7 linked regions of the Homo sapiens genome follow. The protein of the gene in region 2 interacts with the protein of the main gene of each other region in a biochemical or structural test. Each region holds a gene or a part of one and is shown on either strand. Other genes may lie near its edges. The genes, in order: MAGI3, SLC26A3, LIN7A, DLG3, FRMPD2, PDLIM1 and ERBIN.

The links.
Region 1: the proteins of SLC26A3 (region 2) and MAGI3 interact in a test that uses a peptide from one of them, tested with the Homo sapiens proteins (one large-scale study listed by IntAct).
Region 3: the proteins of SLC26A3 (region 2) and LIN7A interact in a test that uses a peptide from one of them, tested with the Homo sapiens proteins (one large-scale study listed by IntAct).
Region 4: the proteins of SLC26A3 (region 2) and DLG3 interact in a test that uses a peptide from one of them, tested with the Homo sapiens proteins (one large-scale study listed by IntAct).
Region 5: the proteins of SLC26A3 (region 2) and FRMPD2 interact in a test that uses a peptide from one of them, tested with the Homo sapiens proteins (one large-scale study listed by IntAct).
Region 6: the proteins of SLC26A3 (region 2) and PDLIM1 interact in a test that uses a peptide from one of them, tested with the Homo sapiens proteins (one large-scale study listed by IntAct).
Region 7: the proteins of SLC26A3 (region 2) and ERBIN interact in a test that uses a peptide from one of them, tested with the Homo sapiens proteins (one large-scale study listed by IntAct).

The regions. Positions count from the first base shown.
Region 1 is NC_000001.11:113,396,536-113,400,645, reverse strand, and holds part of MAGI3 (membrane-associated guanylate kinase, WW and PDZ domain-containing protein 3), read right to left. Parts: intron 1-4,110.
Region 2 is NC_000007.14:107,796,506-107,800,615, forward strand, and holds part of SLC26A3 (chloride anion exchanger), read right to left. Parts: intron 1-4,110. UniProt on the Homo sapiens protein: Mediates chloride-bicarbonate exchange with a chloride bicarbonate stoichiometry of 2:1 in the intestinal epithelia. Plays a role in the chloride and bicarbonate homeostasis during sperm epididymal maturation and capacitation.
Region 3 is NC_000012.12:80,847,274-80,851,383, forward strand, and holds part of LIN7A (protein lin-7 homolog A), read right to left. Parts: intron 1,050-4,110; coding exon 978-1,049; intron 903-977; exon of another isoform or gene 826-902; intron 1-825. UniProt on the Homo sapiens protein: Plays a role in establishing and maintaining the asymmetric distribution of channels and receptors at the plasma membrane of polarized cells.
Region 4 is NC_000023.11:70,489,505-70,493,614, reverse strand, and holds part of DLG3 (disks large homolog 3), read right to left. Parts: intron 1,509-4,110; coding exon 1,332-1,508; intron 1,095-1,331; coding exon 1,019-1,094; intron 240-1,018; coding exon of another isoform or gene 140-239; intron 1-139. UniProt on the Homo sapiens protein: Required for learning most likely through its role in synaptic plasticity following NMDA receptor signaling.
Region 5 is NC_000010.11:48,183,775-48,187,884, forward strand, and holds part of FRMPD2 (FERM and PDZ domain-containing protein 2), read right to left. Parts: intron 3,519-4,110; coding exon 3,418-3,518; intron 1,872-3,417; coding exon 1,779-1,871; intron 1,108-1,778; coding exon 1,000-1,107; intron 909-999; coding exon 792-908; intron 1-791.
Region 6 is NC_000010.11:95,238,682-95,242,791, forward strand, and holds part of PDLIM1 (PDZ and LIM domain protein 1), read right to left. Parts: intron 5-4,110; coding exon 1-4. UniProt on the Homo sapiens protein: Cytoskeletal protein that may act as an adapter that brings other proteins (like kinases) to the cytoskeleton. Involved in assembly, disassembly and directioning of stress fibers in fibroblasts.
Region 7 is NC_000005.10:65,932,711-65,936,820, reverse strand, and holds part of ERBIN (erbin), read right to left. Parts: intron 1-4,110. UniProt on the Homo sapiens protein: Acts as an adapter for the receptor ERBB2, in epithelia. By binding the unphosphorylated 'Tyr-1248' of receptor ERBB2, it may contribute to stabilize this unphosphorylated state.

The sequences.
Region 1 (4,110 bases), on a different chromosome or scaffold from region 2:
CTAGATTTCATGGCTTAATTAATCAATATATGGAATTAATATTGGAGAACTCTAATTATTACAGGCTTTTGAAGTAGAAGCAGTAATTTTCCAAATATGGTCTAAAGTCATCCGAAGGGTGCCCAAACTAATCTAACAATACAAAGTACTTGCTATGATGATTCTTACTGGCAAATCACACCCAATTCCATGAATGTTCATTTTTATGTACAGTAAGTGCATTCACCAATAATCTACCAACATTTAATATTCACTAAAGATCCAACTACCAGATGACACTTGGCAAAACTACAAAACTCCTACTGTGCATGGCATATATAAACTCAAAGTTATTACTAAAATTATTATTTTTATGGCACCAAAGCTGAAGACATTGATACAGTAATAGAATATAAAAATAGTATGAAATGTTATTTGGAGCACCCACCCCTCTCTTTCAACTGTCTACCCCTGCTCTGAGTACCTCTGTTCTCCCAGTGGAGGCTATAAAAAACTTTAAAAAGGGGATCAGATTTTATCCTGCAATATCTGCCAAATAACATTTTTGGTAATTAAACAGTTACCACATGACACCATACTTAAGTAATGTTTCAAAACTCTTATATACCCATTTTATATAAGAGTCAGTGAAGTAGTTCCTTTCACATAATTTCCACGAAATCATGGTTAAAAAGTATTATTAGGGAGCCCTCAGAAATACTACAATAATGACATTGTCTCAATTTGTGTTTAAAAAGACCATTGTTTTAAAAGCAAAACACCTTGGAAAGTAATTCGTTTAGAATTTCATTTTCAAAATGGTAGAATAAAATTGTTTTAAAAACGTAATTGTTTAACTAGGCTAATAATATTTTTCTCAATGCCAAAGACTGTTAATCTTCCAAAGTATTCCATCTCCCTAAAAATCAACAGCATTGATTTTAGAGAATCTTATTTAATTTTTTTAAAGAAAATTAAATAAAAATTACAAGAAATACTTTTAAATTGTGCACATTAAGGTATCAGTATTTCAATTTTTTAAAGAAATAACTTTTAAATAAAAGCAATTTTTTATTTAAATATTTGAGTAAAAGCAGTGCCTAGAAATCAAATCAGTTTTGGTTTACAGCCAATATCTGTTTTTCTAAAAATGATAGTTTTATGACAACTGTGTACTACTTCTGGCCTCCAAGTAAGAGAGATTAAATGTTTTAAAAGAGATCATTTCCTGTAGTATTGATTCCTCGGCATCCCACCCTTTCAGGAACTCCCCCTCCCTTACGTCTTGGGGTTCTGCTACAGTTATTAATCATATTATGCTATTTATACCCAGCTGCAAGGGTAGACATGTCCCCACGCCTGACCAATCATGGCACTTCATTGTCCTCTCCTCTCTCTACAATAATTGGTCCAAGAGATGGGCACAGGGCCAAAGTCCCTGCATGAGATTTGTTATTAGACTCCAAAAAGATGAGAAGCTTTAAGGACCCTGTATGACTTCGGGGTTCAGAGCTACCTTCACCGCTACACTGACAGTCTAGCTGAGAAAAAATCCAACCCAGAAGAAAAGAGAACCAAATAATAATTCTAATGACCAACACTTGAGAACAGAAGTTAGCTGTTACTGATCTATGCCTGGATTTTAATGTATGTAAGTCAATAAATTTCTTCTTAGCCTACATTAATCTCAACAGCGTTTCTGTCACTTGCTACAGAATTCTTACAAATACAGAAACTGATATGTAAATTAAGATTTTTTTCTTTCCTGCTGAGATCTAAGCTATATATCACAAGATACTTGCTGCAAACTAGATAACCATATCCAAAGAGTAATATATCTCTGGAACTACTCCATTAAAGTGAATTTTTAAAAGTTATTTTATTGGAGGAAAAAGCAAAGCCAATTTAGCTTAATTCTATTTAAGTTCAGAAAATGAAGCATTAATAAATACTTGTTTTTTTCCTACCTTGTAGGATATTTTCCTTTCATAAAACTACTTCTGTTAAATGCCATTATGTATAGTAAAATCCCATTTTTCATAGTCATGTGTAATTCCCAATCAGAACAACGAGATACAGGCTTGCCTCTCACAAACTCCCCTGAAGCCAGAAAATAATAATTACGTGTTTCAAATTATGTGCAAAAAAACCAGCAAAAGCAAAGAGGCTAAAATGCCAGAAAGTTTTAATTAAGTAGATCGGTTACCGTTCACATTGTATACCCAAGACAATAAAAAGGGAAGCCTCCAAATAGAAAAGATCTTAATTATTAATAAATTTGAAACAAAATTTTTTCCAATTACCACTGCATGATATTTTTTAAAACCAAACCCTAAACTCCAAACAAATTATGGCAAAAAAGTTTAACCCTTCATAACCCATACAGAGTCTCTAAAACAATATCTCTCAGTATGTGTTAATAAAACAAGTACCTAATCACCTATAAGGACAGCGTGTCCTTTCTCAGGTATTTAGATATGTCATAAGTCAAATTATGGTCCTCAAAATGTAATCTATGTTCCCCTGGCCATGTTGGGATGACTGAAATGGGTGGGGGCTGCAGGTAAGTGGGTTGCTCCTGGAAACCACTGCAATGCAGCTGAGTGGCTGCATCAGGATAAATTGCTAGGGTTCAGGGAAGAATGGAGATATAATGATGCCACCCTTCTCACTGGAAGCCAGTCGGCTGTGGCTGTAACAAAAGGGAAGGCGGGATTAAGATGAAAATATATTTTTCAATTCCCTTTTTCCTAGGCTAGCAAATTGTGTTTTCCCATAAAACTGGCTAGACTTCCAAAACAACAAAAATAGGGCTATTAACCATAAAGAACAGAACTAATGGTACATTAAGGGTTAAATAAAAATATTCATAGTATAACATTATGAGTGGAATGAGGCTGAAGGCAGAAATAGCATTAAGCACCTTAGAGCATTATTTCGAGGAGATAACACATTTAAAAAAAACTTACAGGAGACTATTCATAATGGAACTACCTATACATTTAAACAATTAATATGATCTTCCCTCTATTTTCCAATTATTCTATAATGTGGATTTTGTGCCCTTGTACAAAATAATTTCCAATTATTCTATAATGTGGATTTTGTGCCCTTGTACACAAACACACACAAAATTATTGAGATGGACCACACTGTAAACCTTTCTGTATGGAACGTTTTTGCCCTGTGTTTTTCTCCTCCTCTGCTTCTTACCTACTACTGGAAAGATCCTAATTCCACTCAACCAAAATCTGTCATCTTTCAAAACCCAAACAAGTTCAAAATTATTCACAATTCATTCCTCAACCACTCAAGTCAGAAAACAAGGGCAGATGGCGTGGATCCTACCAAGATATTAAAAAGAAAAAAAGAAAAGAAATCATTCTTTCACTTCATGTACACATTTAATTTCCATAAATTCACTGTACATACCTAGATGAGGATAATTTCTTAGAATTAAAAGTTTTTTTGTAAAACATATCTTTTTAATGCAAGCAAATTACTTCTTCTGGTATTCGACCAAAAAACTGCAATTGGTTCCAACATGGGTGGAAAAGTGGCATTTGGACTCATCCTACAAACAGTACAATATAGTATTTTATGCACAATTTAAGGGCTTTTTGAAAAGACAGTTTTGCTTATATTTGATTTCCCTCTTTTTGTGATGACTTGAGAACCCAAATCCTTTCTAAAATGCAGCTCCACTACTTTTTCGAATAGCACACTATGCAGCCAGTTAGTCTCATTTTCACCAAAATTCATACTAAGACCTACCTAAAGAGTTTTAAACACTGGCAGAAAAGTGAAAAAGGCAAAACCCTTACTACAGGTATTCCTTACCAATGAGTCATTAAGCTCCCACTAAACTGCCAGCTTCTTGAAGACACACAATTTCTGACTCATGTTTATATCGCCAGTGCTAGCTCCATGCTGGCACTTGGTGGGTGCACCACTAAGTATTTGCTGAGGGAATGAATGCGTGCCAGTAATAGGACTTCTTATTTTTTCTGTATTAAATAAAATATGCATCTTTTCTTGGAAAACATTCTGAATAATAGTTGTTCTTCAAAAACAAAATATTAGCAAGATATTTTGTTAGCAAAATTAGCTAGAAGAGCAATGAATGGATTT
Region 2 (4,110 bases):
ACCCACACTTCAGGGGTCAAATCCCACTAACTAGACAGTACTTCCCATTGTCAGAAGAACTTGCTCACAAAGTGGAGGTGACTTGTGCATTGCTGTGCAGAGCATGGATTTTTGTCTTTTTTTGGCTGATTACCAACAACATGGTTGGGGCAATAATAATTAAGATCTAATCCATGGTCAATCACTTCTGACATCTTGGATTTCTCACAAAGGGTATCTGGAATATCTTATAAGAACAGCTTTAATCCTTTGAAGGAACCAACCTAGCCAACCTTAGGATGAAGAAGACTTCAGCACTGTGCATTTGTACTTCTGTCAGATGCTGCTATGGCCAGGAAAAAAAAAAAAGATTCTGCTCTTTGCTTGCTTTACTCATGCTTTCCTCAAGGAGTTCACAGAAATTTATTAGTTGTCTTCCCCAAAAAAGATCTTGAAGGTACTTTTATTCTTCTGGCTGTTGTATTTTTTTTATTTTAATTTTTTTTGCCGATGACAGTGATGGGAGAAATATAACTTCATTTCTAATCAGTTTCCTTCTCTGAGGATGGCTATGGCTGTCTCTTTAGTGGGCTTTCTTATACCTCCAGCTGGATCAAGAGCCTGAACTCTGGCTGTCCTGCCAGTAAAAGCCTCCTCCTCATACCCAAGCACTGCCTGCAAGGGCCCTGCTCAGGGTAGGAATCAGGGGAGCTTAAGAAATCTTTCCGGCCAGGCGCGGTGGCTTACGCCTGTAATCCCAGCACTTTGGGAGGCTGAAGCAGGAGGATCACTTGAGGTCAGGGGTTCAAGACCAACCTGGCCAACACAGTGAAAACTTGTCTCTACTAAAAATACAAAAATTAGCCAGGCGTGGTGGCGGGCACCTGTAATCTGAGTTACTCGGGAGGCTGAGACAGGAGAATTGCTTGAACCCGGGAGGCAGAGGTTGCAGTGAGCTGAGATCATGCCCCTGCACTCCAGCCTGGGTGACAGAGCGAGACTCCGTCTCAAAAAATAAAGAAAAGAAAAGAAATCTTTCCAGACTTTAGAGAGAAATCTTGAGGGCCACATTCCAGCCTTTCTGTTTTCCCCTTGCACCCATCCCCGCTTCCAAAAGCTATGCCTCCATGTGTAACATACAATGTGGGCCTCTGAATCAACTACCCCAATGGTGCCTCTGCTGAAGAGATGTTCCAGATAGTCATAAATTAATGACATTCTCCATGTCATCATTTCTGAGATTCTTGAGCAGGACCTTTTTTTTTTGAGACGGAGTCTTGCTCTGTCGCCCAGGCTGGAGTGTAGTGGCGAGATCTCGGCTCATCTTTAATTAGGAATTAAAAAGAGATTGTTTAAACTCTTTTTTCACCTGAACAAGTTACATTTTTGCCAGAAATTCTTGGAAAACACTTTTTTCTGGTTCCTGGAATCACAATTCCAATTTCAAATATTACGCCCATATTAATGTAAAAGCCTTTTCATGTTCTATCTTCATGGATCTCTGAGTTCCTTAGGGTGTCAGTGGATTTGGGGATTGAAATTCATTCACAGAGTCCCTTCCTCTTACTAATTATAGAATCCCAAGCCTTGTTTGTATATATTTCCACTTTTATTTGCTTCCCTACGACGTGCTTTTTATTATTTTTTTGGCCTTTATGATATATATATTACATACATAGACACACACATGAAGACATTCATATACCTACATATCTTGGTGCTGTGGCTTAGTCATACACGTTGTTGTTCTCTGCTTTTTTTTTTTCTTTTTGAGCAGAAATTTAATCCTGGGATTAATTTCTGAAGTTCAGTTTCTCAGTTTAACTATTCCCATGTATTAATAACTTTTTGATATTTCTAGGGATTGTCATGTACATACCTCCCCACCACTTCAAGTTCCACCCATTTCCAACCTGCAGACTGGCCTCCAGTTACGAGAACCTCCACTCTGCCTGCCCCGCTCTGCTGAGAAGTGTCTTTTGGCCCTGACCTTTCCACTCAGTGTTTATCTATTCTGTGTTTTAGTCTTTCAGAGGTCTGCCCTTTTTGCTGGGAAACAACTAATTTGAACCAAGATGCTGATGAGCGGTGCTAGGATTTGTCTTTAATTAGCGGTCATTTGAAACCAGCAGACAAGCAAGGGTGCAGAACACTTCCCAGCCCCTCCGCAGTCACATTAGATGCCTCCACTCTTGGACAAGGCAGCTCCTAGCAGCATCACCCCTTCATAGCTGTTCAAGCTGAGGAAGGCCTTCGATAGAGACATCACTGAAAATGCCACACTGTGCCTGAAATCTGCTGAAAACACAACTCACCTCATGGATCTCAAAATATCTCTGAGCCAGTCAGTGCAAAACCAGAGGTAAGCCAGCCCTATTTCATGAATTAGTCCTTGGACAATGGGAAATACAGCAGCGTCCTGATAACTATACTTGGGGGAGTGGGTGAGAGATGGGGGAACAAGCAGAATAATTGCTCCAGTGAGCACCTTCAGAGGGATCTCCATCGGCAGCCAGAGGAATCAGAAATCAAGCTCACAAAAAGCTCCACATTCTGGTTAGCGTGAGGCTGGATAGAAGCAGGGAGATGATGGCATCAGAATGGGAGAGGGCTGGAGTGGTGAATGGAGGGGAGGGGTCTCAGCACTGAGGTTGATTAAGAGAGCTCAGAAGGGGTCAAAGGCTGAGGTGGGCAATAATTGTTACTACTATTTTTCATCAATTCTATTACTACATTGCCGAAGATGCTGAAGAAGGAAGTCAAACCTAAATTAATCGGGAGGTACAACAGAAAAGAGTGAGACTTTGGCAACTAAGCACACCAGGTTTCAAATCCTTGCCTTGCCATATCTTAACTATGTTTGCTATAAGCCAGTGATTCAAGCCATCAATTTTCTTTTCTTTTCTTTTCTTTTTTTGAGACAGAGTCTTGCTCTGTCGCCCAGGGTGGAGGCTGGAGTGCAGTGGCGCGATTTCATTTCACTGCAAACTCCACCTTCTGGGTTCAAGTGATTCTCTTGCTTCAGCCTCCCGAGTAGCTGGGACTACAGGCACCCGTTACCATGCCCAGCTAAGTTTTTATATTTTTAGTAGAGATGGAGTTTCGCCATGTTGGCCAGGCTGGTCTCGAACTCCTGGCCTCAAGTGGTCTGCCTGCCTTGGCCTCCCAAAATGCTGGGATTACAGGCGTGAGCACCCGGCCCAAGGCTTCAATTTCCTTAAAGCAAAAGGAGGAGACCATTATTTTCCTTCTAGGGCTGTTCTTAAAACTGAAAGCAGGGTATACAAAGGGAGACTTCTTAGCCTTAAGTTCATAGGTAGCAGTCTCAGAAGTGAGTTAAATATTGACTGTTGGTGGAATTTACAACTGGTCCACAAAAGTCAGCTGGAACCTGTTGGAAAATGTTAGTGCTGCCAACTTTTCTATGACTTTATGTTTACTCTGAGCTTATCTTTAGAAGTAGCAGTTTTCCATTTTTATCCCAGTTTGTTTTAACATAGTTTTAAAATAATCTAGCTATCCGAGCTTCCTAGAATGACATACAAGGTCCTTCATGTTTTGGCTCTGGTCTATCTCACAAGCTTCTTCACTCCTCCTTCACAATTGCAGCAGGTTCCTAACACGCTATGATATTTAACAGTTCCGTATCTCTGTACACATGATTTCCTTTGTGTTCTTCTTCTCCAATACCTGGTAGATTCCAATTCATTCTTAAAAATACTCAGCACAGCTGGGTGCAGTGGCTCATGCCTGTAATTTTGGCACGTTGGGAGACTGAAGTGGGGAGATTGCTTGAGGCCAGGAGTTCAAGACCAGCCTGGCCAATATAAAGAAACCCTGTCTCTAAAACAAACAAACAAACAAAACACAACTCAGCTGACCATTGATTCATTTCTTCATTCCTTCAACAAACATGTATCAGCCTATTATTTGTCAGGAACTCAGTTCCTAACACAGTTGTAGAAGATAAGAAAATGATGTAAAGCCTTCATGGAATCCCTAGATAGAGTTGATCATTTCCTTCTTGTAAGTACCTTGTATATATGTCTATTCCATGTCATACATTATTTGTTTATGTTTCTGTTCCCTTTAAGACTGAGTTTCCCAAGGGCAAGGCCCAAATCTTAACCA
Region 3 (4,110 bases), on a different chromosome or scaffold from region 2:
CACGTAGGGATCATTTTTCTGTGTGTGTTCCACTTCAGTACAAGCAAAGCATGACATGATGATAATAACACCCTCTTTTTTTCCCTGAGTTTAAACAAAACAAAACAAAACAAAAAAACCTTACAAATCTACAGTGTTCAGTTACAGAGTAAAAACTAAAAAATCAAGAGAGAAACTAAACAAGCGTTGATGTAACACAAAATAATTAAATGGAAAATTCTACTCATTTTCAATGGTTATTTCTTATACATTATTAGAAAAATAAAGTATTTTTAAAAGCAAGTCATGTTTCTATTATAACATTTGTGTGTTTGTAAAAGAAGAGCTGCATCAGTGATTTTAGTTTAAAATTGGTATTTCCTAATGGCCTATTTTCCTGATAATTTCCTGATGTTATCGGTATAACATTTCCATTAGTAGGGTCTCTACAGTCTCTGGATTTGAGTCTTTAAAGGGCAGATGTGGTCACTACCACAAAAGGTGACAGGCGTTTTCTATAAGGTCTATGCCACATCCTTTCAGCAAGTTACCCACTGCTCAGCTGAATACACAGAAGTATCCTAGATCAGTGGGTGTCAGGTGAATTCTTTTCCTGTCTATTTGAAATCAAATCTTTAGACCGGTGCAAATAAATCTTCATGCACTGAATATGATACAGGTTCTTTCAGATCAGAAGAATGTGTCTGAAAATCATATAGTATTTCACACAATGAACCAGTAGATTTGCTTGTGCCAAATGGACATTAAGTGAGTTTAATGAAATCATTCTCCTTTCTTAAGCTACAGAAGCAGCAGAAACGTTCAATTTTCCATTAGGATTTTTACCTGAGAAGTAGTACTGGTTCTAGACTCTGGGCTGCCACTGATGTCTAAATTCTCTTACAGTGTACACACGAGAATACCTGAAACACACACGCGCACAATCAATTACTAGATAACTGGGGTCAAGTATATTTTTAAAGTTACTCAAGCCTTACCTTTGCTGTTGCCCTCGCACGGAATTCGGGACAGCCATTAACAGTTATCGTTTCATGCATATATTGATACACCTAAAATGTTCACATAAAAAGAAGAATGTGTAAGAACATGAAGAATAATAATTCTTTTATTGCAGAAAGAAAATTATATTTTCACTGTAGGAAAAAAATTCTCTATTGCAAAATAACATAGGTCTGATGTTTGGGAATGTACCTGATAGCACTCCTTAAACAGCAGATATTATTACTCATTGTGATTTTAGATACAATTACAGAAATCATTAAAATGTAGTAGAAAAAAATTGTTTCTTATAAACTTCCAGGGATGGGATTATAAAATCTTTGTATCTATGGTAAAATAAATTGCTTAAACTAAAGTACAGAAAAAAAAAAACTTAAAGGATGCCTTGAGGAAGATGTTTGGAAAAAAGTAACAAGGTTAAATGTGTTGGACTATATGTTCATTTTGGATTTAAATAGTATACGTAAAAATTTATTGCATAATGCATAGCAATAAAAGTCCATTTGGTACTAGGCTAGAGTATTTTTGGGGAGTGATCCATTAGCTATTTCAGTAAAAAAGGAAAGGGAAAAACTGCAATCGAAGGTTGAAAGGTTTTTTTCTTCCTTTATATTAATCTTATTTTACATGCTTAACTCAAAAATTAAATAAGTGAATCCAACATTTGATTAATTCACCCATTCAACAACTATTTGTTGAGTGTCTGGGACTAATCTCTTCCCTGCATTTTTGACTGGCTCATAATTTCTCAAATACATTTGGTTGAATCTCCACTAACGCTGACTCATCTTTCCCAGGTGACATGGTTAGAAGGAAATTGACAAAGTAGTCTGTACTAAAAAGGCAACAGTGCAATTCAGAATCTAACTTTTAGCTCTGAATCTCCACTTAACAATTATGAGGTGTTCAATTTCTATGGGAAATCTGAATGGAGACAGGAACAAGTTTCCAGAAGATCATTTATGGAATCTGAGATATGTTACTGCAAATTCTCCAGGTTACCTGAACAGCTGCTAAACGTACTTCCAGATTATTTCCTTGGAAATGCATTATTTTGTTTCATAGAGACAGCCTTTCCAAAAATAAATTATACTATTTGCTCTAATAGCCCATTTCAGAGGAGGATTTTCCCTGCCCTGCTTCTCTTGTAATAAACTCTCTCAAATCTGACCCTTCATTCCACCCTAGCTCATTATCTCTTGCTGCAAGCATTGCATTAGTGACTTAATTGGGTCTCCCTGCCATCAAACCATATACACTTTGGTGATCATCAAGTACCTACCTGACCATGTCCCTGCTGTGCTCTTGGCTGTCTGCTGCCCTTACTGCAAAGGTGATAAGGGCAAATACCTACAGGAGTCAAGCCACAGATAATAATGCAGAACTCAGCCTTCTCTCTAGTTTTATTTTCCTGTTTTCTTTTCTCCACCCCCACCATTCCTCAAACATATTGAACTCTCCAAGTTACCTAGGTCTCTGCACATGCCGTTTACTCTGCTAGGAATGCCCTTCCACCTGGCAGACTCTTATTCATCCAAATTTAATATGATGATAAAAGGTCAAATTCAAATATTGTCTCCTCTATTAAATGTTTTCTGCCTCCCTCAAGCAGAGTGAGTCTCTCCACAGTTCCTGGTCATCTGAATTTGTTTGAAGTTATTTTGGTTAACATTGCCAGGGAAAGTGACTTTGCCTGCATCCAAGGATGTTTATGAAGACAATCATTTAGCAAATAATTGGAATATTGTCATCAATTGAATAAAACAAAAGGTGATTTTGTAAGTGCTGGAGATAAATACCTGTACCTAATAAATATCACAAATTAAGAATAATTAGCCTTAAGACCCCAAATTGATTTTGAATTAGAAAGTGGTATATTCAAGGAGCAATACTGTGTAGTAGATAATTTCACAGACTCTGAAGATGGCTTGGAAGCAAACCGTAGCTGTACCATTTAATTGTATGATGTTTGTCAGTCACTTGATTTCTCTGATCCTCAATTTCCTCATTTTAAAAATGTGCCTTAAAATAGTAAGTAACTTCTAGGTCTGTTATGAGGATTAAATAAGATAAGAACAATTTGCCATGTTTAGTATGTTTCCAAAAGTTAGCTATCATTGTTATGCTGTTGCTGGCATTTGATGTTTCTCATCTTATTTGACCATGGATCTTTTGGGGAAAATCTCCTAAGATGAGCAGTTCGTGAACACTGTTTACATAGAATTGATCAAGGGCTGTAGTTCTCAACTGGGGACAATGTTGCCCTTCAGGAGACATTTGGCAATGTCTGGAGGCATTTTTGGTTGTCATAAATGGGATGCTACTGCATCTAGCATGTGGTGGCCAAGGATGCTGCTAAATTCCTACAATGCACAGTGAAGCCTCACAGAACAAAGAATTATCTGCCAAAATGTCAATAGGGCTGAGATTGAGAAATCCTGATCTAAGGAATTAAGCTATACCTTTTCTTCGTACGTGCAATGATTGGTAAGCTGTAAAAACAGACTTGGATAGCACTGAGTAAAGGCTCTTGTAAAACATTCAATAAATATTTGTTGGAGTAAATTACCATAATTCTGGTATATATTTAATGAGAAATCACCATGGGCCAAATGTAATGCTAACCATTTTATATCCATGAGCTCGGTTAATTCTCCTAACTTCTTATTTGGGCACTCTACACACAAAGACACTGAGTCACAGAGGTGGGAACATACCGATGACCACACAGCTAATTTGTTGCAGATTTGATACAGCAACTCATCTCTATCTCCCTTCAAAATCTTTCCTCTTTCAACCGTATCAGACTTTCTTATATTAAAACAGCATCAGATCATTACTATTTTGGCAGTATCAGTGTGAACAAAAACTTGCAGGTGTTATGAGAATTTCTTTATATTTTGAATAAAGGAATCTAGGTTTTATACAGTGGCTACCATTAAACAAGTGAGGGCTGCAAATATACAATACAACAATTTTGAAACCAATAAATTCATTAGTCCACAGTGAAATATCATTTTAATCTTCCTTATGATTATAATATATGAAGACTTAGTGGAATGAATCCAATATAATTGCTAGTCTTTTTTTTTTTTTTGTCTACAAAACACA
Region 4 (4,110 bases), on a different chromosome or scaffold from region 2:
AGATAAGCAGGTGCACACGCACACAGGCAGGCACGAGGCCACACGTGGCCCTGCCCAGGCTTCTCTCGAGGGAAGGGCAACTGAGGATGAGAGGATGGGGCTGCAGATGGCCTGCTCTCTGGACTCTGCTGCTACTTACGTTCCTGTATGCTGCTCTCCTGGGCCATGTTTTCTTTGCTCTTGTAAAATGGAAACTTTCGAGAGAGGCGGAAACTCTTTTTACGTTTCGTTTTGATCGACTGTGAAAGAACATGAAGATGGAGGGGAAGGACAGAAGAAAAAAAAAAACAGAACAATGGATTTTAAAGCATGCAAGAAAAACTAAAATGGAGACAACGGTGAGCTAAATAAAAGACCATCTCTCACAAATGGAGTCTATGAGATTAAATGAAAGTTGATGTAAGAGGAAAATTATGTTTACAAGAAAATGTTGTAGGGATGTTAGAAGTTTCTACATAATCCAGACACTCATAACACTCACTGGTACTTCCTAAAGAACAAAGGTCACTGTAGCCTCCTGGACACATGCCCTAAGGTACCACTGATATACACATCTACTCCACGTCTCTCTTCCCTCTACTGCTCCAGAAGTTCTTTGGCCTGTGAAGCTCATAGAAAAAAAGGGGTGAATGGAGAACCCGCCTGCCTCAGGTGGTCTGAAGGGAGGTGGGAGCTCTGGAGCTGGGCTTCTTGGCCGGATGCTCTGACAGGATCTATAGCCAGGGAGACACCCACGAGTGGTTTCATTTTCCCCAAGCAAGTCAGCCTTCCAGACAGTCCAACTCTAACACATCTTCAAGAGCCGGTACCCAGGGGAAAGGAGCACAGACTGGCTGTGAACTTTAAGAGCTCCCTCTCTGCTTTCTGAAAAGCAGTCAATGTTCTGATAGGACAGAGCCAGCCCCCTGAAAAAGAGATTTTCTTTTGTGTTCCCCAGTTCTCCTACACATCAGACTAAACTCCAGGCTTCTCAACCCTCTTTACCTACTGGCTGATTTCCTTGGGGATCCCCACTTACCCTGTTAGACTCAATCATCCCCGTCCTGGCATGGAACTTCACAGTTTTCAATCGAGCTCTTTCTTTCTTTTCCACCCTGTTTTGGAATCAGAAAGAAGTCCTGTTACTGCCAGTAAATGGTCTCAGCAGTGGGTTGCAGCAGGCACAGCAGCCATTTTTTTGGCTCACTGAGTAAAAACCATGTTGAGTACCGACTCTACCAAAAAGGAATCAAGGCACAAACGTTGCTCTCAAGCAACTTCTAATAGGAAAACAAGAAAGAAATACCAGCAAGAGGGCAGGAAAGGCCTTGCTCATGATCATGACGACTCACCTCTTCTTACTGGGGATCACACCGATCTGCTCACTTTCTCCGTGTGGGGTCACCAGCCTTGCCTGCCACCACTCATCATCAGAGGCATTAATGACATGCAGAATGTCACCATAAGAGAAGCTGAGCCCCTGGCTTGGCAGGCAGCTGTCCCGAGTCCGATCATAATCAAACAGGGCCCTGAAAGGCACAGTGAAAGATGAAGTGATCATCCAACCCTAAATGCCAAGACACTGGCACCTTGAAAAGATGGAAGGCCAACCCAAACAGCACAGACATAGCAGCCTCACAGTATACTAGAAGGATGTCTCCAGGAGACCACATCCTTCTTTCTGAGCCAAAGTGGTAAATATGCACCCGCTTTCAAAGAAACATCTCATTCTCCCAATAAGAAGCATAAGAGAAAATATTTTACAAACCCCATCTCCTCTTGGCTTCTGGATGCAAGATAAAAGTCCAAAGTAGAACTCGCTCAATAGCCCTCTCCCTCACCCACATCCTAGGAAACTAGCTCTAGCAGGGCGCTTTCTCAGTTCACAAACATATCTTCAAAAAGTAGCTAAAGAGAGGACAAAAAATGTTAACTACAATCCCAAACAATGACTGGTAAACACTCCTGAAGCACTAAAGAAAGGGCCCTATGTCCTCGGGCAGCCAAAGAAAAAGCACAGAATGGTAGGGTTGAAAAGACCAATGGGACCATAGAAGTCACCTAGTGCGGTCTCTTTCTCTTACATATGGGGAAACAGAGGTTCAGGGAGGAAAAAATAGTTTGACCTAGGTCATACATCTAACCAACCTGGGACAAAACCCAGGTCTTCTGACAAGACATGCTGTTGTGACATGCTATAAATGATGCAGAGTAAAGAAATAAAAGGGAAGGTGGGAGAAGGTGGGGAGGGAGCTATACAATCCAGGCTTATGGAAAAGGACACCAGCTTGGCTGATGCTAGAAGTCCTAGGAAATGGTATTGGAAATAAAGGTCTGAAGCAAATTTTGGAAGCCCTTGAATAGACAAGATCTAGTGGCCCCTGGAAATCTGAGAGGAGTGACACATCAAAAGAGCCTTAGGAGGTCGGGCGCAGAGGCTCACGCCTGTAATCCCAGCACTTTGGGAGGCTGAGGCGGGTGGATCACCTGAGGTCAGGAGTTCAAGAGCAGCCTGGCCAATATGGTGAAACCCCATCTCTACTAAAACTACAAAAATTAGCTGGGTGTGATGTTGCATGCCTGCAGTCCCAGCTACTCGGGAGGCTGAGGCAGGAGAATCACTTGAACTTGAGAGGTGGAGGTTACAGTGAGCCAAGATTACGACACTGCACCCCAGCCTAAGCGACAGAGCAAGACTCTGTCTCAAAAAAAAAAAGCCAAAAAAAAAGTTTCTACTTTTCACATCCAGTGGAACCTGTCTTCATATGGAGTCACCACAAATGGGTGATTTCAGTGAGAAGTTTGTATTTTTCTACCTGCAATCTAGGCTGTCTTCTTCATATTCTCTGTTAATAAGGTGTTTTCACACCTTTGCACACACAGCCCAAAATCTAGTTCCAAGACTTTGACTTCTACCTGCAATACTGTGGCCTTTGGCTCAGTTGGAAGCTGCAAGTAAAACACACTATCTTACCATATGCAAGCCCAAATGAGATAGGATGTAGTAAAACCATGAAGAGTGAAATACTCACCTACTGCTTACAGCTCTTGAAACAGAGTTCTTAAAAATCAGCGTCAGATGATTTGAAAATGAAAATACCCAAACTCTAACAAAAAGCCCTTTTTTCCCCTCAATTTACACACTCAAAGCAGTAAGGAGAATGGCAGAGGCAGCAGACAAGGAGGTGCTGTCCGAGAGGTGCATTCCGGGCTATGTGTGACAGAATCAAAACTGAATGCATTCTCACTGCCTGAGTCCTGCATTTCCTAAAGCAAGGAAGACATTCTGTCAGCCACTCCTACTAAGAAGAGCATCATGAAGCAACCTCATTCTCAGTGACAATGAGAAACACTGGATGTCATTATGGGTTTCAAAGATTAGAACAAATATAGTAAGGAAAAGAACAGAACTTGAATTAAGCACAAATTAGTTTGGTGAGAGAAGGAAGGAAGATGTTAAAATGAATTTAGGAGGCCGGGCGCGGTGGCTCACGTCTGTAATCCTAACAATTTGGGAGGCTGAGGCAGGCAGATCACTTGAGGTCAGGAGTTCGAGACCAGCCTGGCCAACATGGCAAAACCCCGTCTCTGCTAAAAATACAAAAATTGGCCGGGCATGGTAGCGGGCACCTGTAATTTCAGCTACTCGGGAGGCTGAGGCAGGAGAATTGCTTCAACCTGGGAGGCAGAGGTTGCAGTGAGCCGAGATTGCGCCACTGCACTCCAGCCTGGGTGACAGAGCGAGACTCTGTCTAAAAAATAAATAATAAATAAATAAAATAAAATGAATTAGGGGAGTTAGGATGAATTTGTAGAAGATTAGAGGGCGGAGTTTACTGGTTGTAAGTTTAAAACACAAGATACATTTTAGCACTTCCCAGAACCATGCTTGACCTTTGGCAACAGCAGTAACAAGCTGAAGTGTATAAAGTAGAGTTGACGTAAACATGTTTTCTAGATGCCGGGAATCCAACTGTTTGTAATTTTTTAAATATCTGAGCTTCAACTAAAATTGATGTAACAGTTTACTTCCGGCTGGGTGGGGTGGCTCACGCCTGTAATCCCAGCACTTTGGGAGGCCGAGGCGGGCAGATCATTTGAGGTCAGGAGTTCGAGACCTGCCTGGCCAAC
Region 5 (4,110 bases), on a different chromosome or scaffold from region 2:
CCAGGAGGTGGAGCCTGCAGAAAGCCAAGATCGTGCCATTGCACTCCATCCTGGGTGAAAGAGTGAGACTCCATCTCAAAAAAAAAAAAGGAAAATCAAATACCGCATGTTCTCATTTACAAGTGGGAGCTAAATAATGAGAACCCATGATCACAAAGAGGGGAACAACACACACCAGAGCCTACTTGAGGGAGGAGGATGGGAGGAGAGAGAGGATCAGGAAAAATAACTATTGGGCACTATGCTGAGCACCTAGGTGATGAAATGGTCTGTATAGCAACCCCTGTGACACGAGTTTGCCTGTAATAACAAACCTACACATGTAGCCCTAAACCCAAAACAAAAGATTAACAAAGAACAGTGCTTGTCTCCTCCCCAGCTGATTGCTATACCTATACAAAATATAGAAATTTTGTATAGGATTCTATACAAAATATAGAAATCCTGGAGCCGACCCTATCAACAAGGACTTTGGGTGGCAATAAAAAGGTCCTCCCTGCCATGCAAGGAGAGTTGACAGAAAAAAAAAGACTGGTTGTATCCAGCCGTGTCTAACAAAATTAGAGTAGGTTACTCCCTTTCAGCAAGACAAGCATGGTAACGCCCATTCTGCCCCTGAAATTGCAAAGCTTATTAATTTGTGCCACTACACTGCTTCTTTGCAAGCCAACACCATGAGGAAAGCAATATAGAAGACCTACGTGGACTTCAAGGTCTAGTACCTCACAGTAATCATGTACTCCTGAAAACAGGGGAGCCTCTTAAGCTCCCAAGAGTGGGTTAAAACATACCTTTTGACTGAGAAATAATTAATTCTATGTTGTCAGGGGAATTCTGGATCATCCTAACAGCCATGTTGAATGTGAAGCCCTCCAGACTGATGTGATTCAGGGCTAGTATCTGCCCTCCTAGAAAAATAAAACATCTCAATAATCCTTCAAGGAAATAAAAAAGAGTGGTTTCTTAAAACAGCATCTCTAGTAATTTAAAAAGATGTACCTGGTTTGATCGTTTTTGCTTTTTCTGCTGGTCCTCCAGGTATAATAGAAGATATAAAAATGCCAGGGTCAGCTTGGCCTGAATACTCTCCCTCATTAATGACAAACCCTGTAATCCAAGATGATAGTCCATGATAAGATGATACTTAGTGATTTTGCTGTTCAGAGAGGTTAGGTTATTTCCCTCATATCACACAGCTACCAAGTGGCATTAGCTGATAGTTACAGTCAGGTCTTCTGATCCTCAAATAGAGGATCTTTTCTACTTTACCATGATACTTGGAGAAAGGTGGATTGTTCCCCATTAGTAAGCACAGCTAAAGCTAGGAATACAAACCACCAATATGCACTGGATTTTGCTCCAGTAGATAATGAGACATAGGAAAGAAATGATTTTTAATCAAGTACCTTGTCTCCGTACCTTGTTTCTTCTACAGTTTTTCGGGTCTTAGAAAGTGGTCACTAGTAAGAGGTGAGATAAATTGACTCTTCTTCCCCATAGCTGACTAGAGGAATGTTGTTACATGGTATTAGGGGAAAAAATCTTTTTCTGCATTGTACTTAGATGCACCCCAAAAAGAAAAACTTGGAAACAAAAGTCCCATTGCTCTTTAGGAACAATTAAAGGGAGAAAAAAAACAGAAGTGATTACCAGAAAAGGCAGACTGGGAGAGGAGGGATAGGAAAGGGGAGTAGGCAAGTTGAAAGGGAAAACAGTACCCACCTCCCCACTTTGCCCAGCAGTAGAGACTGGGCCTCACCTACAGGGAGCCCTCTTACCAAAACCACGATGTGGGTCACGTTTCAGTGTCACACGTACAATTTCTCGGCCCGGTTCAGCTATAAAGCTCTTCCTCCTATTATTCTTTGAGCCTAGAGGTAGAATCAGAGCACCACATTGTGCTTTTCCCCCAAATTATTTGGGAGCTAATACAAAAGGAGTAAACAGCATTTCACACACATGCGCGCACACACATTCACACGCACACAATCCTGAAAACAAAAGTAGCTCATATTTAATCTCCCAGCAGTGCTGGGAATGGACACCTGAACACACACTCACATGAGCCTCTCTGGAGTGTCACTCAGTGTTGCTCAAGTTCCAGCTTAAAGAGCAGAGGCAAGAACAGGATGGGCTATGGTGCTTGTTTTCTGTATGACTTACTGTAGCTATTTTTTTCCGCATTGGTTTTGGGACAAGACAGAGGATGAGCAGAGATGTATTAATAATTGCTGAGAGTCAAAACAAAAACAAAAGCTAAAACAGAGGTGAGACAGTAAAGCCTTCCCATCCCAGGCCTCAAATAACCAGGGGTGACAAGGTGCCAGCAGCCCAGCCTGTGTGACCTGTGGTCTTCCCCTGGCTTGGATCATGGAGGAGCCCCAGGCAGAGCCCTGAAGCTGTTCCTGGAGAGCTGGAGTCCTGGAGTGGGGCACTTCAGTGTGTGCCACAGTGTACTTGGGAAAATCCCCAAATGGTGACCCACCACTTCAGTCCTTCCATGTCTCTCCCTCCCCCAGGGACCTTGGCAGAAATTGGCAGACAAGTTACTTGTAAAGAGTTGCCTGGCAGTTTTCCTGATTGATATGGTTTGGCTGTGTCCCCACCCAAATCTCAACTTGAATTGTATCTCCCAGAATTCCTGCATGCTGTGGGAGGGACCCAGGGGGAAGTAACTGAATCACGGGGGCTGGTCTTTCCCATGCTATTCTCGTGATAGTGAATAAGTCTCACGAGATCTGATGGGTTTATCCGGGGTTTCCGCTTTTGTTTCTTCCTCATTTTTCTCTTGCTGCCATCATGTAAGAAGTGCCTTTCACCTCCCACCGTGATTCTGAGGCCTCCCCAGCCATGTGGAACTGTAAGTCCAATTAAACCTCTTTTTCTTCCCAGTCTTGGGTATGTCTTTATCAGCAGCGTGAAAACGCACTAATACACTGATCCAACCCTCAGGCTTAATGCTCACTGAGTAGAGATATTTTTCCAAGTGTCGGATCTCTTTGTCCTCACATTCAACAGGGAACTGGCCAGGAGGATGCATGGCTGAAGGGACTGCCATCTACTCTGTGTATGTTTTCTGGTGAATACTGGGAGGTGATGTTCTGGCCTGCATAAAGAAGCATATCTACAGTGAATGGTGCCTTTTTCTGAACACACCCTCCATAGCAGGTATTCTTCCTTCTGGACAAGAGTGCTGGGATTGTCTTCGCCAGAGCTGACACATTTCAGATCCTCATACCCAGCCAAAGCTAAACGCCTCTTCCCAATCACAAGTAGTTTAAAAAGAAAACAATTCAAAAAACAAGAAGGTTACAAACATTGTGTGGGAAGCAAAAATAAGTGGTGGTAAAAGACTCAAAGCAAGCTTCCTGCGTAGGGGTTCCTCCACCCAAGACCTGGTCGTGGCCTGGCCCATACCTGCATGCATGCTCTGAACAGGTGGTCCAGAGAGAGAGTCCCAGGTCATTGGCTTCTGGATCACACAGGCACTCTTCAGCTGCTCCCGGCCAGTGCAGGGGCTGCCGGGAAAAGAAAATGAGGTTAGATAAGGTGGCCCACGGGGAAGGACAGTGAGGTTAGATAAGGTGGCTCAGGGAGGCAACTTCTTGGCATTTCTGAGTATGGATGATGGCCCGGGGAGGGCAGCCTTGTGTCCAGTCATCCAGCAGCTCCTCAGAGGGACCCCATCGAGGGCTGATCTAGTTATTAGGAGGACACTGGGAAAAATGGCTGTAGGATCTTTATGTCTCAGAGGGGACACTGAGGTAACTCTGGCTTCATATGAGCCTCCTACTATGTGCAAGATACGTGATCCTGTAAACCTCCATTTTTTCAACCATAAAATAAGAATAACATTCCTACTTCCCAGGCTTCTAAGGGAACTGAAATGAGATAGTAAGTGTCAAACACCAGCACTCTTAGTGGATACTGATGTTTTGTCATTTGCTCCTGTTTTCAGCTGGAGGCCTTCAGGCAGGCCAGGCACCCTCCACACCCCACCTACCACATGCTCGAGAGCTGCACAGGGTCACTGACCTGCTTGATCATTGTACATGTTGTGTTGGGTGCCGCCTGATCATACCATGCTGTGAACAAGAAGCATTCATGCAG
Region 6 (4,110 bases), on a different chromosome or scaffold from region 2:
TCCCCTGAAATGAGGAAAACACTGTCATTGGCCAGGAAGGGCAGAATTGCATAAGTATCACTCAGCTCTTCAGAACCACTTATAAATATATGTTCAAGCAAGGCCATGGGAACTGGAGTGACTCTGCTCTGTGATCCTGGGCAAGTAACTTAGCCTCTCTGGTCCCCAGTTTATTTTTCTATAAAATAGGAGATTAACACCTGGCCAAAGAAAAGCCCAAAAAGCCAAGACAATCCTAAGCAAAAACAATAAAGCTGGAAGCATCATGCCACCCAAATTCAAACTATATTACAAGGCTACAGTAATCAAAACGACATGGTACTGGTAGAAGAACAGAGAACAGAGAACCCAGAAACGAGACCACACACCCACAACCATCTGATCTTTGACAAACCTGACAAAAACAAGCAATGAAGAAAGGATTCCCTATTTAATAAATGGTGCTGGGAGACCTGGCTAGCCATATGCAGAAAATTGAAACTGGATCCCTTCTTTACACCATATATAAAAATCAGCTCAAGATGGATTAAAGACTTAAATGTAAAGCCCAAAACTATAAAAACACTACAAGAAAATCTAGGCAATACCATTCAGGACATGGGCATGGGCAAAGATTTCATGATGAAAACCCGAAAAGCAATTGTAACAAAAGCAAAAATTGACAAATGGGATCTAATTAAACTAAAGAGCTTCTGCACAGCAAAAGAAACTATCATCAAAATGAAGAGACAACCCACAGAATGCGAGAAAATTTTTGCAATCTATCCATCTGACAAAGGTCTAATATCCAGCATCTGCAAGGAACTTAAAACAAATTTACAAGAAAAAAATAAGCCGGGCACAGTAGCTCACTTCTGTAATCCCAACACTTTGGGAGGCCGAGGTGGGTGGATCACCTGAGGTCAGGAATTTGAGAATAGCCTGGCCAACATAGCCAAACCCCCTCTCTACTAAAATTACAAAAATTAGCCAGGTGTGGTGGCATGCACCTATAGTTCCAGCTACTCAGGAGGCTGAGGCAAGAGAATCACTTGAACCCAGGAGGCGGAGGTTGCAATGGGCTGAGATTGTGCCACTGCACTCCAGCCTGGGCAACAGAGCGAGACTCCATCTCAATAAAAGAAAAAAATAACCCCATTAAAAAGTGGGCAAAGAACATGAACAGACAGTTTTCAAAAGACATACATGCGGCCAACAAACATGAAAAAAAGCTCGACATCACTGATCATTAGAGAAATACAAATCAAAACCACAATGAGATACCGACTCACGCCAGTCTGAATGGCTATTATTAAAAAGTAAAAAAACAACAGATGCTGGCAAGGTTGTGGAGAAAAAAGAACGCTTTCACACTGTTGGGATGTAAATTAGTTCAAACATTGTGGAAGACAGTGTGGTGAGTCCTCAAAGACCTAGAAGCACAAATACCATTCAGCCCAGCAATCCCATTACTGGATGTATACCCAAAGGAATATAAATCATTCTATCATGAAAATACATGCACTCTTACGTTCATCACAGCACTCACTATTCATGATAGCAAAGACATGGAATCAACCTAAATTCCCATCAATGATAGACTGGATAAAGAAAATGTGGTACGTATACACCAGGGAATACTATGCAGCCATAAAAAGGAACGAGATCTTGTCCTTTGCAGGGACATGGATGGAACTGGAAGCCATTACCCTCAGCAAACTAATGCAGGAACACAAAACCAAATACCACATATTCTCACTTGTAAGTGGGAGCTGAATGATGAGAACAGATGGACACATGGTGGAGGGACAAGACACACTAGGGCCTGTCAGATGGTGGGGAGTGGGGGAAGGAGAACATCTGGAAGAATGGCTGATGGATGCTGGGCTTAATATCTAGGTGATGGGATGATCTGTGCAGCAAACCACCATGGCACGTCATTACCTATGTAACAAACCTGTGCATCCTACACATGTACCCCTGAACTTAAATGTTGGAAATTTAAAAATAAATAAAGTTCTTAGAAAAGAAATCCACATCACAGATAGAACAAAACCATCAGAATACAGCATGCTACAGCAGGCAGATAACAATCATCTCCTACAGAGCAGAGGAAGGAGCCTTTCTGTAGTCAGCCTGGTGCGTGTAAAATAAGCCCCTAGTAGCTAGATGCTGAGCTGCCTAAGGCCCCACTCATCACATCTTAGGTAACAAAGCCCTGTACCATGGTAGCTATTAATAATGGTAAAAATCACCTGGAGGCCTTGTTAACACACAGATTGCTGGGCCCCACCCCCAGAGTTTCTGAGCCAGAAGGCCCAGGATGGGGCCTAAGACTGCATTTCCAACAAGTTCCCAGGCGCCACTGATCCAAGAACCACTGGACAAGAGCAAAGAAACAGCTTCCTGTGCCAGGTGAGGGGATGAAGAGAGGGTCACCCCATGACTGCAGTCACGTCGGGCAATCGCGGGGCTGACAGACAAGGGCCTTAGCTCTCTTGTTCTTTCAGAAAGTGAGTCCCTGTATGCTGACCAATCCTTCCGAACCAAAAATTGAGACACATGTTCACACAATGGACATTTATTAATTGTTTATTTTTACTGATTAGAGATAGCATCTCGCTATGTTGTGTCTCAAAGTCCTGCCCTCCAGCGATCCTCCCACCAGAGCTTCTCCAGTAGCCACTGTGCCTGGCAACAAGGGGCATTTAGAATACATGGTTGACTGTATTTTGACCACAATTACCCCGCCCCTCTCTTGCCATGCTTACCTCCAGTCAGTGGTTCCCTACTGGGGGCAGTTTTGTCTCCTAGAGAGCAGTTTCGATTGTCACAGTGAAAGGGGATGCCACTGGCGTCTAGTGGGCAGAGGTCAGGGATGCTGCTGAACATCCCAAAATACACAGGGCAGCCCCACAACAAGGACTCATATGGCCCAAAATGTCAATAGCACCAAGGCTGAGAAACCCTGCTCTCGATGGAGTAGACTTCCCCATCCTGACTTTAGCCAACGTGAGCAGATGTGAGCCTTATACAGGCAAAAGCACTAAGGGCACTTGTGTGGTTTGGCCCTGTTCCCACAGAGGTATTGCCTCTGCCATGAAAACAGCAAGCACCAGAGTGCCTCTCCCTTCCCTGGGCTTGAATGAGAGGACTCGGGGCCTGGTCCAGCCCTGCCAAGCCCAGCAGAGCCACAGCTATCCGGTAGCCCTCATAAATACAGATTACCCACTGCTGAATAATACAATATGAGAGATGGTTTGGGGTACTTGGCTGGCTTATGGGGAACAACAAGAGGGTATATGTGAATGCAGCCTGAACTCTCAATAGCCCTATCATGCTGCCATGGCTCAGACTTAGGCTTCCCCCCTCAGAGCTGGGACTATTCATCGCTGGGAACCGATGCACACAGATGTCCACCTGGCAGCACATGAGATGGGGCTGAGATTAGGAGGCTCCATGGTTTTAAGTGGTGAGCTCTACAGATGGGCTTGGGGAAGACTCAGTTCTGCCCCACCAGCAGGTGCATAAGGAGAAACCACCTTGGTGCTTCTGTTCTCCCCGAGCCTAGGGCAACTTCTTGCCCTTCCCAAGCCTTCCTCCCTTCCTTTGGGAGGAGGCCAAAGTTCCAACTTTGTTCACCATATATTTTACCTGTATTAATTTTTTTAATATTGCATTTAAATGTCATTTTTTTTCATGATTATTGAGTTTTCCAGTGCCCCCTTAAATTCTGCACTCAAGGCCGGGCGCAGTGGCTCATGCCTGTAATCCCCAGCACTTTGGAAGACCAAGGCGGGCAGATCACTTGAGGTCAGGAGTTCGAGACCAGCCTGGCCAACATGGTGAAACCCCATCTCTACTAACAATACAGAAACTAGCCGGGCATTGTGGGACGTGCCTGTAGTCCCAGCTACTTGGGAGGCTGAGGCAGGAGAATGGCTTGAACCCGGGAGGCGGAGGTTGCAGTGAGACGAGATCACGCCACTGCACTCCAAACCTAGGCGACAGAGGTCTCAAAAAAAAAAAAAAAATTCTGCCCTCAAAGCAGTGCCTCCCTCACCTCACCCTGATCCTGGCCCTTCCTAGAGGGATCTCAGAAGGGCCTGGGTGGGCATCTTCTCTAAGCAT
Region 7 (4,110 bases), on a different chromosome or scaffold from region 2:
GGGAGATGGAATTGTGGAGAATTTTCATCTTCTATGTTCTATATTTCTATGTTTGAATTTTTACAGCAAGATTATTTTTATAATTGGGGAAAAAACAGATTAAGGTAATTGTTTTTACCCTCTGCCTATCAAAAGCCCTTCACCTTATCCAGCCTTCCTATCCTACCCTAAAGTGTCTCACTCTGTAGACATTTGTAAGACAGAATCGACAGAAATTTCAATTACTAAGGTCAGGAAAATAAAGATGACTCCTAGGGTCCCTGGCTTGGGAATGGCTTTTAAAAGAGCAGACAGGACCCTCTGTTGATACCAGGTATCCACGACAAATCAAAAAGCATCTACTATATACAGTCCCTGCTATTTTGCAGTCAGCATCAAGACAATAAACTAAATCTTCTGAAGTCCCCAGGGATTAATAGGGCACCCAAAGGATCCATTTGATGCTGCCAAGATCCTTATCTTTTCCTAGAAGACTGAGAGATTTATTCTAGTCTCAAAGGATATGCCTCTTAAATCACTTCCAAAATCTATAAGGAAGAGGAAAGTCAAACCAACTTATTCTAGGTTGTGTGATAACCTTGGCAACAAGATTCATTTTTAGATCACTAGTTTCTTGCACTGGTCCTACTACAAACATACCCTCCTCTCCCCACCCCCCCTCCATCAGACCTCCCTCCATGCTCCCACAAAGAGTCTAGAGTGACCTAAGGTGTGAAATTCCAAGAACACCATTATTAGGTGCTTCAAGACTTCAGGATCATGCAAACAATATAACCTGAATATATGAAAACCACAGCTGGGTGCAGTGGCTCACACCTGTAATCCCAGTACTTTGGGAGGTTCGAGGTGGAAGGATCACTCAAGCCCAGGAGCTGGAGACCAATCCTGGCAACATAGTAAGACCTCTACCTCTATAAAAAATAGAAAAATTAGCTGGGCGTGGTGGCATATGCCTGTAGTCTCAGCTACTCAGGATGCTGAGGTGAAAGGATTGATTGAGGCCATGAGTTCAAAGCTGCAGTGAGCAGTGATCATGCCACTGCACTACAGCCTGGGCGACAGAGCGAGACCCTTCTCCAAAAAAGAATAAAAAAGAAAAACACAACTGCATCAAAATCACTGCACTCATACTGAAATTGAGCAATTATCTCCACAAATAACTTGTCCAATGTAAAGAGTAAAAGTACTGGATTTCTTCCATCCTCCTTTCACAGTCGCCTCAAGAATTACTAAGGAATGAAATATTTCACATAAATGTACTTTATCACGGAATTAAAACTTGCCTTTTTACAGTTTGGAATTTTATCTCTTTAGAAATACTTCAGAAATTAATTGGACTGCAGACACTTCTGGCTCAAAAATGTTTGAACAAATGTTTACCTTAACTTCCTCACACACATAACATATGGAAACAAAACTATTTCTCACTGTTAGAGATAAGTTACAAGTATGGAAAGGGGAAAAAAAACAACTTAGAGTGAACCTGGTGGTGCTGGATTAGAATTGCATTATAGAAATATGCAGATGCTCCTCGATTTACAATGGGTTTACATCTGGATAAACCCATCATTTAAGCCAAAAATATCACAGGTTGAAAATGCACTTAGTACCCCAATAAAACCCCTGGTAAAGTCAAAGAAGTATAAATCAGGGACCATTGTATATATTTATAGATATATAAATAAAAATAGATGTAAATATGTGTAAGTACATAAAAATATTTCCTAGCTTTGTATATGAAGAGGGCCTGAGAGTAACAATACCCTAAAAACAACAATGTACACAAGCCCCAGATCTTGGCTTCTAAGTATCATTTTCCACTAAAAACAACCAGGAAAAGTAGAAGATATGTTAGAACATCTAATTGTGCTAAAAAACAAGGAGTACTCAAAAAAGGAAGAGGTATCAAAAACAAAAAAGAAAATAAGCCAGGGGGTTCTCACTGGCCAATCAAGAACAATTTGAGCACCAAAATAAATAGTAATGCATTATGTCCTTGCGAAGATAAACCTAGGTACATGTAAATAAGTGAATTTAAAATATGACAAACAAAACAAAATATTTACATAGTTTCAAAGCACCTACCGCAAAATATTAGTTAATTACAAACAGGGAATGAATACCTTAAAAAGGGCAAGTCTGGCAGCCACAACTTTAATCACATAAAGTGAATACCATAATAGGACACACTGAAATTGCCTGCCACCTGATAAGACGTAATAAGAAGAATGCAGCATCACTTTTACAATAACCCTGCCAAAGATCTAATCATAAAAATCTAATCAAAGATCTAATCATGAAAAATATCACACAAATGAAAATTGAGGGGTATTCTACAGAATAACTAGGCCTGTCATCTTCAGATCTTCAAAAGTGTCAAGGCCTTGAAAAAAAAGAGAAAGAAATTATTCCAGATTGAAGGAGAATAAAGAGATGACAACAAAATGTAACACATGATTCCAAACTGGAATAGTTTGCTGTAAAACACATTATTGGGATAATTGAGGTTCAGATGTTAGTAATATATTCATGTTTACTTTCTGATTTTGATGGTAATGATGTCATTATATGCAGGAGAATATCCTTGTTTGTAGGAAATAAACATTAAAATATTTAGGGGTGACGGGCTGGGCGCGGTGGCTCACGCCTGTAGTCCCAGCACTTTGGGAGGCCAAGGCAGGCAAATCATGACATCAGGAGATCAAGACCACCCTGGCTAACACGGTGAAACCCCATCTCTACTAAAAATACAAAAAATTAGCCAGGCGTGGTGGCGGGCGTCTATAGTCTCAGCTACTTGGGAGGCTGAGGCAGGAGAACTGGCGTGAATCCAGGAGGTGGAGCTTGCAGTGAGCCAAGATCACGCCACTGCACTCCAGCCTGGGCGACAGAGCTCTCAAATAAAAAAAAATATATATTTAGGGATGACGACAGGGCATCATGTTAGCAACTTAGTCAAATGGTTCAGGAAAAAAAATGTTCAAACTTTTCCATATGTCAGTCATTGTTTCAAAAATTAAAATTTAATTTAAAAATATCTATAGCAGTGCTGAAAACCTGGGAGGGGTATACCTACAGATAAGAACAGAACGGAATTTATAAAGAATACAAAGTAGGCTGGGGTCGGGGAAATAACAAAATGCAATACACTTGAGGAACCAGACACCCAAAACAAGAAGAAAGTGGGATCTCCAAAAAAGATGAGTTTTCTTAGCAAGAAGGATTAAGAGAAGCATATCCTGAGCGGTCAGCCAGAGAGCAAAACCATAGTAAAACACTGTGTAGCTAAAGCCTCTAGTACAGCTCTATGTATGTAGGAGATGTGACACTTGGACAGTGTGATTATGAAAAAAGGAGACTGCCTCCTGAGGAACAGTAAGCACCTGTACCAAAAGGTCAAGCTACCCACATACCTTCAAAGAGAAACTCGTTAAATATTTCTCCCTTTCCTCTTCTAAGCAATCACCAAAGCCAGAAGAAGGATTCATTGGGCTGGGAACATATATTTAAATGACCAATACAGTAGAGACTAGGTCATCATATAAAACTTTGACTACCATGAAAATCTAGTATTTGAAGAAAAAACAAAAAGCATGACATACACCAAAAGCACAGTAAGATCAAATTTTCTGTAGTGTTAGTAGAATAAACAAAAGACAATGTTAAAAGAACATCTCAGAGATTAAAGGTTACATGCAGACCAAAAATAGGGCTAGAAAACCAAAATTGGGCCAGGTGCAGCGGCTCATGCCATAATCCCAGCACTTTGGGAGACCAAGGAGGGAGGACTGCTTGAGGCCAGGAGTTCAAGACCAGCCTGAACAACAGAGCAAGAACCCATCTCTACAAAAAAAAATAAAACATTAGCCGGGCATGGTGGTGCATGCCTATAGTCTCGGCTGAAGGTGAGGTGACAGGATAGCTTGAGCCCAGGAGTCCGAGGCTGCAGTGAGCCGTGAGTATGCCACTGCACTCCAGCCTGGGCAACACAGTGAGATCCTGTCTCAAAAAAATAAAAACAAAAATAACTCCTATGAAAAACTAGAATTCTTAGAAACTCTGTTCCAAAAACAAGTAACAAAATAACTGAAAACAAATGAAAATCAAGTA